Homo sapiens: one gene and its partners. The protein of the gene in region 3 purifies or fractionates together with the protein of the main gene of each other region. This does not show direct contact. Each region holds a gene or a part of one and is shown on either strand. Other genes may lie near its edges.

Region 1 (3,229 bases), on a different chromosome or scaffold from region 3:
GATTGTAGAGAAAGTGAGATAGAGACAAACACTGAACTAAAAGAAAGGGTAAAGGAGCTGTCTGAGGGGATAGTTGATGAGGGAGTAAGTACCAGCATTGGACCCCACAGCATAGATGATTCTAATTTGAACCATGGAAACAGATACATGTGGGAGGGAGAAGTAAAACAGCCCAACTTGCTAATGATTGACAAAGAGGCTGAACAGTCCAATAAATTGATGACAGGAAGTGAAACTCCAAGTAAAGTAGTGATCAAATTGAGTCCACAGGCTTGCTCTTTCACAAAGGCAAAATTAGACTCATTTTTATCAGAAGCTAGGTCTTTACTCAACCCACAAGATACACCTGTGAAAATTTCTGCCCCAGAGTTGCTGCTTCATTCCCCAGCCAGATCAGCTATGTGTTTAACAGGTAGTCCACAAGAGCAAGGAGTTTCAGTTGTTAGTGAGGAGGGGCTAGAGAATTCAGCTCCAGAATCAGCTTCTAGAACTTCTAGGTACAGAAGTCTCAAACTCAAGAGAGAAAGATCAAAAGACTTTCAAGTTAAAAAGATCTATGAGTTGGCTGTTTGGGATGAAAACAAGAAGAGGCCAGAGACCTGGGAGAGCCCAGAGAAACCAAAAACAGAAGCACTGGAGCTACAAGATGTCCATCCAGAGTTAACAGTGACAATAGAAAGCAAGGCCCTAGAAGACTTTGAAGCTACAGACTTAAAGGTAGAGGAGCTTACTGCCCTGGGGAATCTGGGGGATATGCCTGTTGATTTCTGCACTACTCGGGTAAGCCCAGCACATAGATCCCCAACTGTCTTGTGTCAGAAAGTGTGTGAAGAAAATTCTGTATCACCTATAGGGTGTAATTCCTCCGATCCCGCTGACTTCGAACCAATCCCATCTTTTTCTGGGTTTCCGTTAGATTCTCCCAAAACCTTGGTGCTTGACTTTGAGACAGAGGGTGAACGAAACTCACCTAATCCCAGGAGTGTTAGGATCCCTTCTCCTAACATTTTGAAAACTGGACTTACAGAAAATGTTGACCGTGGCTTGGGGGGCCTAGAGGGAACACACCAGGCCCTTGACCTGTTAGCAGGAGGAATGATGCCTGAGGAAGTAAAAGAATCTTCCCAATTAGACAAACAAGAGTCACTCGGATTGGAATTAAAAACAATTAATTCTGCAGGCCTTGGGCCATCTCCTTGCCTTCCAGACCTTGTTGACTTTGTCACACGGACCTCTGGAGTTCAAAAAGATAAACTGTGTTCTCCACTCTCTGAGCCAGGTGACCCTTCTAAATGTAGTTCCCTGGAGTTGGGGCCATTACAGCTAGAAATATCGAATGCATCCACCACAGAGGTGGCAATTCTGCAAGTAGATGATGACAGTGGCGACCCTCTGAATTTGGTTAAAGCTCCAGTGTCAAGGTCCCCTCCAAGGGAGCAGGTAATTGAAGACAATATGGTCCCTCAGGGAATGCCTGAACAGGAAACTACAGTTGGTGCCATCCAGGACCACACAGAATCCAGTGTTCACAACTAAGAATAAATACCTAGAGCTACTTGTGAGTGAATCATTGGCTTCTAGAAATCAGATGCCCAGATGATCCAAGACTAGTTTGTTATCTCATCTGGAACCTACACCAAGAGATGCAGTCAGCATCTTAAAGTAAATGTTCATGGAAGCTAAAAAATTTACCTCCTTTCCTTTTCCCTTTCCCCTTAAAACACCAGACAAATCGATAACAACTTATATATATATATATATATCTGTAAAAATGTATTTTGTTAATTTTTTTGGCCAATTTATTTTCTCCCACTTTGTCATTAAAATCACATGTCTAACTGGCTCACCACATAGTGTGCTTTGATTGTATTTTGGCTTTGACTCTGCCATTTCTGAAATGTGGGGGAGGATGGAGGCAGCTGACCTCTCCAGTTGCTGTGTTGTATTCCTACCCAATTTCCTGGGCAGTTGATGCATCTCTGGGAAAAACACCAGAAAGCTTGCTGAAATGGAAAACTTGGAAGAATTGTTCATCTCTTAGGCTTCCATTTGGATGGGCCTGCCTTAACATTGTTTGAAATGCAGCGTGAGTAGCTCTTTTGTTTACTGTTTACACCCCTTATTGGCATGTCAACTCCTGTACTTCCCTTACTCTGTTGCCTTTCTTGAGATGCATTGTCCTGCTAACCCACAAACCTGTTTGGAAATAAACATGGAAGAATATCTGGCAGGCTTACTTTTAGAAGACGACAAATCGGTAAGGCTTATTCATGGTTCATTGCCAGGAGCAGATATGCTTTTGAGATCACTTTTATTTTTGAAATGGCCTTTGTTCATTGTATTGTGATCCAATAACACTTTGTATTAAATTGTTTAGCAGCCATTTGTGTTGTGAAGGGGTAGAAGATCTCTGAAACTTGTCTTGAGATTGAACTCATTCCCTGTTCCACAAACCCATATGTATCCTTTCCTCTACCTCCTCCTTTCCCAATTAATTTCAACCATAGTACGATGTTTGGGGTTGTATATTTTGTTAAAAAGATTAAAGAATTTATGAGTTGGCTTGGACAAGTTTAACTTTATTTTTAATGTGTTAATTACTTGGAATAAATGCATTAATCTCATGTTTCCTTCTGGATTTTTGTTTTGAAATCACACACATTTGAACTCCAAAGGAAAACTAGAACAGTGAATCCCTGCTGCCCTATTGTCTATCCGCACCCGCAACCATGCTTTCCTCACTTGTCAGAACTACTTCATGCCAGAATGTTAGGATATATAGTCTGCCCCAGCGCAGCCTGGGTGGGTAGTGAGTAGGCAACAGTTGTCTGGTATTGGTATCTTCCTGTTGTGAAGCTTTTTATATACCTTTGTGTTGACTCTCCGTAGGATTTTCTGGGAACTGAGCTCCCCTAGGACAATCAGGTTCTTGCTCTTGGGAATTAGGGAGCTCAGTCCTCAGATTTTCTCTGTCCCAGTTTCCTCTTGTATCCCTGTTGTCAGCAGTTTATAACCTGACTCAACAGGGCCTTCGGAGTCTTATTTACCCACCTGTTCCTCAAAGATAATACAAAATTGCTGATCTGGATTAACCTCCCCGCTCCCCCAATTTTTTTTTTCCTGTTTCCTTATGTACAGAGCTATAAAATCCCTAGGTCAACATTGGGAAGGATTTTTAATTTTTTTGACTAATGTCAATTTAGAAGTCATTCTGGCCTCTCTTATGTTA
Region 2 (2,985 bases), on a different chromosome or scaffold from region 3:
AAAATTTTTTTTGCAGGCCTGGTGCGAAGGCTTACGCCTGTGATCCCAGCACTTTGGGAGGCTGAGGCGGGTGGATCACCTGAGGTCAGGAGTTCGAGACCAGCCTGACCAACATGGCAAAACCCGGCCTCTACTAAAAATACAAAAATTAGCCGGGCGTGGTGGCGGGCGCCTGTAATCCCAACTACCAGGGAGGCTGAGGCAGGAGAATCACTTGAACCCAGGAGGTAGAGGTTGCAGTGAGCCAAGATTGTGCCACTGTACTCCAGCCTGGACAACAAGAGCAAAACTCTGTCTCAAAAAAAAAGAAAAAAGCCAGACTTGGTGGCTCATGCCTATAATCCCAGCACTTTGGGAGGCCGAGGCGGGTGGATCGCTTCAGGTCAGGAGTTTGAGACCAGCTTGGCCAACATGGTGAAACCCCATCTCTACTAAAAATACAAAATTAGCTGGGTGTGGTGGCACACGCTTGTAATCCCAGCTACTTGGGAGGCTGAGGCAGGAGAATCACTTGAACCCAGGAGGCAGAGGTTGCATGAGCCCAGATCGCCACTGCACTCCAGATTGGGTGACAAGAGTGAAACCCCATCTCAAAAAAAAATTTTTTTTTTTTTTTTTTTTTCGCAGAATGAGGTCTCACTGCATTGCCCAGGCTGGTCTCAGACTTCTGGGCTCAAGTGGTCCCCCTGCCTTGGCCTCTCAAAGTGCTGGGATTACATGTGTAAACCACCATGCCTGGCCAAAGACTTACTTTTACAAGAGGAGTATAAAACATCTCATTAATAATTTTCATAATTGATTATGTGTTGAAATAATATTTTTGATATTTTGTGCCAAATAAAACAGTACTAAAATGAAGCTCACCTATATCCTTCTACATTTTCACTGTGGCTACTAGAAAATTTTAAATTACATCTGTGGCTCTCATTACATTTCTATTGGCCAGCACTGGGCTGGGTGAGATGACTAGGGGCAGAAAGTACATTCTGAGGGCCAGACAATCAAGGTGATTGATAGTGGGGTTAGGTTAACTGAAGGGTAGAAAAGGCCAGGTTAATAGGAGGCAGGGACTGAGTAACCGGGAACAAAGTTATTAGAGCATGAGAGAGAGATTCTGGGGTATTATAGGGAGGAAGGAGGCTGTGCTACAAGGGCCAAGAGACAGGAGGATGTACTCAAATTGGCCTGGATGAAGGGACGACCCTCTGCGACTTGGGTGGGGATAAGGGTGGCAGGTTGGGGCCAGCCCTGCACTCACCGCTTCTGCTCCCTGGAAGGAAAAAGAGACAGTGTCACTTGGTACCTCCACCTCAGGGACGCAGTCAAGACACCCTGCCAGGCCAGCCTCTGCCTGACCCCCAGCTCACCTCTCTTCTTCCAGCTTCTTCCGCAGGAGGTCCCGCCTCCAGGCGGGCATGCTGGCCAGCCGGGCCTCCTCCTCCTCCTCCTGAAACACAACCACAAAGCTTCAGGGCCTGCAGGGGCTGGGAGATAGGGGGCACCCTCAACCTCGGGACCTGAAGGAGTCAGGGTCACAGGAAGACATCCTTTTGATGCACATCTGTGTGACAAGTGGATGGAGGTGCCTGGTCACACCCCCTCAGAGCTGGCCTCCTTTCCCCTAGTAACCCAGACCCTCATGTCCTACAGGAGGCACCAGAGAGATCAGAGCTGAATGGGACAGAAGCAGAGAACAAGTAGCTGGGACCCAGAGGTCCTGAGCCTGATTCCCCGCAGAGGCAGGTGGCCAATGGCCACAGGCCCAAGACCTCTGGGCAGACGCAGATGCCAGCCAGCCCCCACCCAGCCTCTTGGCTCAGGGAGACTCAGGCTGCCCCTGGCTCCCCTGTGAAGGACCTTCACCCCATGGTTGCCATCTTCCCAATAGAGTGGATACGGGCACTACAATCGTGGGGCTACAATGACATCAGGGGCAGGTGTGGTGTCCAACGCAGGCAGTTTACAGCAAAGAGTTTTATTTCCTGAATGTTACAGAGGAGAACGGGTCTGTACACGGCACACTTCACACAGAACACTGCACACGTGGCACCCTTGACCTCAGCCAAGGAGGTAGCTGTGAACTCCAGTGGAAAACCAAAGAGCAGGCCACACTGCCGCAAGGAGGAGCCGCAGCCCCTCACTCAGAGGGGCTTCTTCTGCTGCCTGGCTCCACACAGAGCTCAGCAAGGCCACGGGGCCAGAGGCGGACACCTGGTCTGTTCTGTGCCTGCCCTGCCTATCCGACCAACGCCCCACAGCCCGCCACGATGGGACCTCAGAGGCTGAGGCAGCCTGGTCCTGGGCCCTCCGGGCTGCTCAAGGCCACAGTCCTGGGCTCTTCCTGCTGCTTCCAGCCTCTGGAGGGCGTCAGACAGGCGTCCAGGCCCACGTTAAGACGCTCGAGGGTGAACTGAGAATTCCGAATTCCGCTGCTCAGATGTCAAACAGCTCTGCCTCCTTCTCTTTCCAGAAGGAGAAGCTGCGGTCGATGTAGCGGCAGATGTCCTCGTTGCTGAACTCGCCCATCTCAGACACCAGTTCCAAGGGGTCTTCGGCGGGGGCTTCGGAACCAGGAGAGTCTGAGGTCGGGGGAGGCGCGGCGGGCGGGGGCGGCGGCGGCGGCTGCGGCGCAGGGGCCAGGGCCTCGGGCTGCCCCTCAGGCGGGTCCCCCGTCTGAAATGGAGCAGCCTCTTCGGTCCGCTCCTGTTCTTTCCCCTCCTCTTCCTTTTCCTTCGCCTGTTCTTCGGGGGCCGGCTCAGCCTCCAGGCCGTTTCCGAAGAACCGGTGCCTGAGGTCCTCGAAGCCGTCGCTCCAGCCGCGCCGGCCGGCCTCCACCTCCTCCAGCACCACGCGGTGGAAGAGGCGGATGCGCTCCCACGGGTGGCTGCCCAGTCGGTCGAACATCTCGTAGCACAGTAGGTGGCGGAACTTGCGCTCCTCGCGGCTCAGGCCCATCTCGAGTAGCTGGAAGTAGCCGAGCATGAA
Region 3 (3,831 bases):
CATCCAATGAGCAGGTGGATCTGAAGCCTGCAGAGGCAAATGTGGAGGTATCATTGATTTCTTCCCAGTGGAAATGCTGTGGGTAGGACAGGTCACCCAGGCAGGGGGCCTGGGGCTGAGCCACTGCCTCATTGACTGGGCTTTCACAGGGCTTCAGCCCCAGTGGTCCCTGAGCTGGGAGCTGTGGGTCTACACAGAGAGGAAGGAAATGAGCCGCAAGGAGAGTAACTAGGTCAGCAGCTATGCAGCCCTCCTTCTGAGCTCTGGTTCCTGTTTCTAGGGTCTCCAATGATCAGGAGACCCTGCCCAGAGGCCAAGGGCCCCAAATACAGGTCTGGAGCCCAGAGCGATGACCTTAAAGTCTAGATCTGAGTCCAGATCCAGACTTATGAACCCAGGCTTTGCAGCCCGGGCCTTGGAATCCTGAGCCCAAGAACCCAGAGCCCAGTCCTGCCCATTTGTGTGCTAAGAGTAGAGATGGCTCTTTGCTTTCTGCCAGGTTCTGGGCCAGGATCAGGACTGGGCCAGCTTGCCCTAATGACCATCCCTCCTGGCAATTTGAGGCATTTACTGCAGTTTGAGGCAGTGGCAGGGGCCTGTGTCTTTCGACTACTGTCTTCCCTGCACTGTGCTCCTACCAAGGAAGGGACTGCGGCACCATCCCTCTGGTGCTGGCTTGGCCTGTTCCCCACCATGGCCAGGGAGGCAAGGGCTGGGAGTGTGGCTGGCCCTGTAATTGTAGCCAGCTGGGGGAGAGGGTGGACTTGGCTATAAATACTCAAAAGGCTGCTAAGCGCCTGCAGCTGTGGCCCAGAGGCTGTGGTGGGCTTGAGGGGAGGGAGGGAGTCGGGCGTGGTCTGAATCTCTTTGCTGAGCCCAGCTAGTTGGCCTCAAGGAGGAGGAAGGAGGAAGCATAATTTGTGGAATAGATAAAATGTGTTCTTAATTTTCTGAGGAGAGAGACCCAGGTTGAAGCTGGCAGAGTTGGACAACCCTCCAGGAGGGATGATGGTCATTCTTTGGGGGAGGAGTACAGCCATGACACCATGAGGGTGGTAGACATGGGTGGGAGCCTGCCCTGCCCACTCTGATCCAGGGAGGTAAGCATCTCCCATAGTTTCAGTTCCCCTCAGAGAAGGGTCAGACATGGGTGGGAGCCTGCCCTGCCCACTCTGATCCAGGGAGGTAAGCATCTCCCATAGTTTCAGTTCCCCTCAGAGAAGGGTCAGACATGGGTGGGAGCCTGCCCTGCCCACTCTGATCCAGGGAGGTAAGCATCTCCCATAGTTTCAGTTCCCCTCAGAGAAGGGTCAGTCATGGCTGGGAGAGCTGGGCTGTGTGTATCTGGGGACCTACGTCTCTGAGGACCTGAGAAGGGACAGGTGGGGGCTGGTGGGTACTTGAGTGGATTAGAGGTTCCCGTGAAATTGCCATCTGACCCTATCAGCCAAGTGATTCATGCAAAACAAAATCCTCTGGGCATCCCTACTGCCCTTCCTCTGTGAGCTGCAGACTCCCTGCCCTTTCCAAATGGCTTCCCCACAGAGGTCTGGACCTCCCTGCCCAGGGAGCTCCCATGATGGGTGTCAAGAGCCCAAAGAGTCCAAGGCCAAAGACTGTCTTTCCCTAACTACAGGATAGATGGGAAACTGAAGCTCAGAAAGGCAAAGGCCTTGCCCAAAGTCATATAGGGAGTTAATGACAGAGCTGGAACTAAAACCAGGTCCCCTAACTCCCAGGGGATGGGGTGAAGCCAAGAAGAGAACCCAAGCTTAATTTAGGAAGGAGAGAGGGAAGAGAGAGAAAAAGAGCTTTTTTGTGCTCTGCCTGCAGAGGGTAGAGGTGAGCTAGGTAGTGGCAAAAAGGCACTGGGCTGCAAGCGGATAGGGGAGAAAATTTGGGAGCAGGTATGGGGTCACAGCAGGGGGAAATCTGAGCTCCACATGGTGACAGCAGCCAAAAAGGAGCCAGGGAAGGGCCTACTGGCCCTGCACTCACCCCTCCCCATCCCCTTTACAGCCCTGGCCAGACCAAGGTAAGGCTGGGGTAGGTGTCAGTGAGCAGTGGGCACAGGTGGCTGAGAGGATGGGGGCCCAGGAGCACAGCGAAGGCAGGAAATGGGGAAATGGCAACTGCCCAGCCTGCCCCAGCACAGCCCTCACCCCCCTGCCTGGACAGCAGGGAGGGTGGGACTGGTGCTGGTCTGCCAAGGAGTTCTCAGGACCTGTGGGTGACACACACTCCAGTGTCCAACTTATAATGGAAGGATTGGAGTGCTTTGCAGGTAGGGTGTTGGGTCATAAACTCAGGATCTGGTCTTCTAAAGGACAACCTCAGCCAACGACACCTGGAGTCACATGGACTATTCCCTCTGCCCTTATGGGTCTCTTGACACTCTTCCCAACCCTGGGTATGTCTGACACAGCAGGTCTCGCCCCAAATAGCACCCACTGCCAACCTGACCTGAAGGCATCAGGTGAGAGGACTAGGTGAGGTCCGGGCCCCTGAGGCTCTGTCCACAGCCCCTCCCTCCCCAAACACATACCCATTAGCTCCTTGATAGGTCTCGGCCAGGGACCTTCCCATGGTAAGGATGGTGCCAGCAGTCAGCCCCCCGCCTTCGCAGAGCTGGATTTCCCTGGCCTGGAAGGTTGTTCCCCTGAGGGTCAGGGAATGGATGCCTTTTCCCACTCCCACAAGCATCAAGACCCCATGTCCATCTGAGGTTCAAGCCAGAGCTGGACTCCTTTTTGCAAGCTGTCAGCTGAGCCCCTGTGTCACCTAACCCGAGTTGGGGAATGATCGTGTCAGGGAGAGGGGAGGCAGGGATCCAGAATTTACTGGGCAGGGGAGGGGTAGGGCACAGCTGGACAGGCTGGGCAGAGGAGGTGGTGCTGGGACCCAGAGAGGGGGGGCCCACCATTCCTCCCTCATGTATACTTTCCCTCTCCCCAGGAAAAGAAGGGGCAGGAGGTGCAGAAGGGTCCAGCTGTGGAGATTGCGAAACTGGACAAACTGCTGAACCTGGTGAGGGAAGTGAAAATCAAGACCTGAGGGGCTGGCCTCAGTCTCTGTCCCATCGCTTGAATACAGTACTCCTAGGGCTTGACCCTGGTACCCAGCCCAGCCTTAGCACCCAGCATGTGACCCCACTCCTGATCAGGTCCCAGCATCTTCCCTTCTTGTTCTGTTCCTTAAGGTCCCAGCACCTTACCCCAGGACTTGGTCTTCAACCACCATTACCCCTCTAACTTTGCACAAATAAACCTGTGTAGAAACCCACCCCACACCTTTAATTGTGCTACCACAGGGCCCTCAGGAAGAGAAGAAAACCTCAGGGTAGAGCCATAGTTCCATTTATTATCCAGCAAACACTGGGAGGACCAGGGGAGGGGCCCAGCCTGGACACCCTCCTATTATTGCCATGGGTTCCAGTTTGCTTCCCCAGCCTAGAGGGCCTAGAGGTGCTCAGCCTAGGGAAAGAGTGGACCCGGCCCCTGACCCTTGGCCCTTGGGATGGAGCATAGTCCAGATGGCCCTGGCTCTAGCACCAACTCATAAGCCCCCACCCCAGGCCCATCTCCTTAGGGCCACTGAGCTCCTATTGGAGCCAAGCTGGCTAGACTCTGGGCCGCTGGGTCCAGCTCCAAGCAGGCGGACTCTTGAGTTCTGGACCCCAGGCTGGCTGAACTCTGGGATCCTAATTCCAGGCTCTAGGTGAGGTGGACTTAGGTCCTGGGCTCCAGGCTAGGCCAGGGGCCTTCAGGGCTGCAGCAGGTAGCTGCCTTCATGGCTGGGCTTCTGGGGTGGTGGGGCCTTCTCAGGACAGGG

Evidence for each region.
Region 1: the proteins of DNAI1 (region 3) and ZNF318 purify together in Homo sapiens (affinity purification with mass spectrometry; one large-scale study listed by BioGRID and IntAct). This does not show direct contact.
Region 2: the proteins of DNAI1 (region 3) and ESPN purify together in Homo sapiens (affinity purification with mass spectrometry; one large-scale study listed by BioGRID and IntAct). This does not show direct contact.

Annotation. Positions count from the first base shown.
Region 1 is NC_000006.12:43,335,465-43,338,693, reverse strand, and holds the end of ZNF318 (zinc finger protein 318), read left to right. Parts: coding exon 1-1,536; 3' UTR 1,537-2,624; downstream 2,625-3,229.
Region 2 is NC_000001.11:6,455,646-6,458,630, reverse strand, and holds part of ESPN (espin), read right to left. Parts: coding exon of another isoform or gene 2,434-2,985; exon of another isoform or gene 1,960-2,433; intron 1,448-1,959; coding exon 1,368-1,447; intron 1,271-1,367; coding exon 1,259-1,270; intron 1-1,258. UniProt on the Homo sapiens protein: Multifunctional actin-bundling protein. Plays a major role in regulating the organization, dimension, dynamics and signaling capacities of the actin filament-rich microvilli in the mechanosensory and chemosensory cells.
Region 3 is NC_000009.12:34,517,703-34,521,533, forward strand, and holds the end of DNAI1 (dynein axonemal intermediate chain 1), read left to right. Parts: intron 1-2,955; coding exon 2,956-3,054; 3' UTR 3,055-3,282; downstream 3,283-3,831. Other genes in the region: ENHO (adropin precursor), read right to left, coding at 3,763-3,831.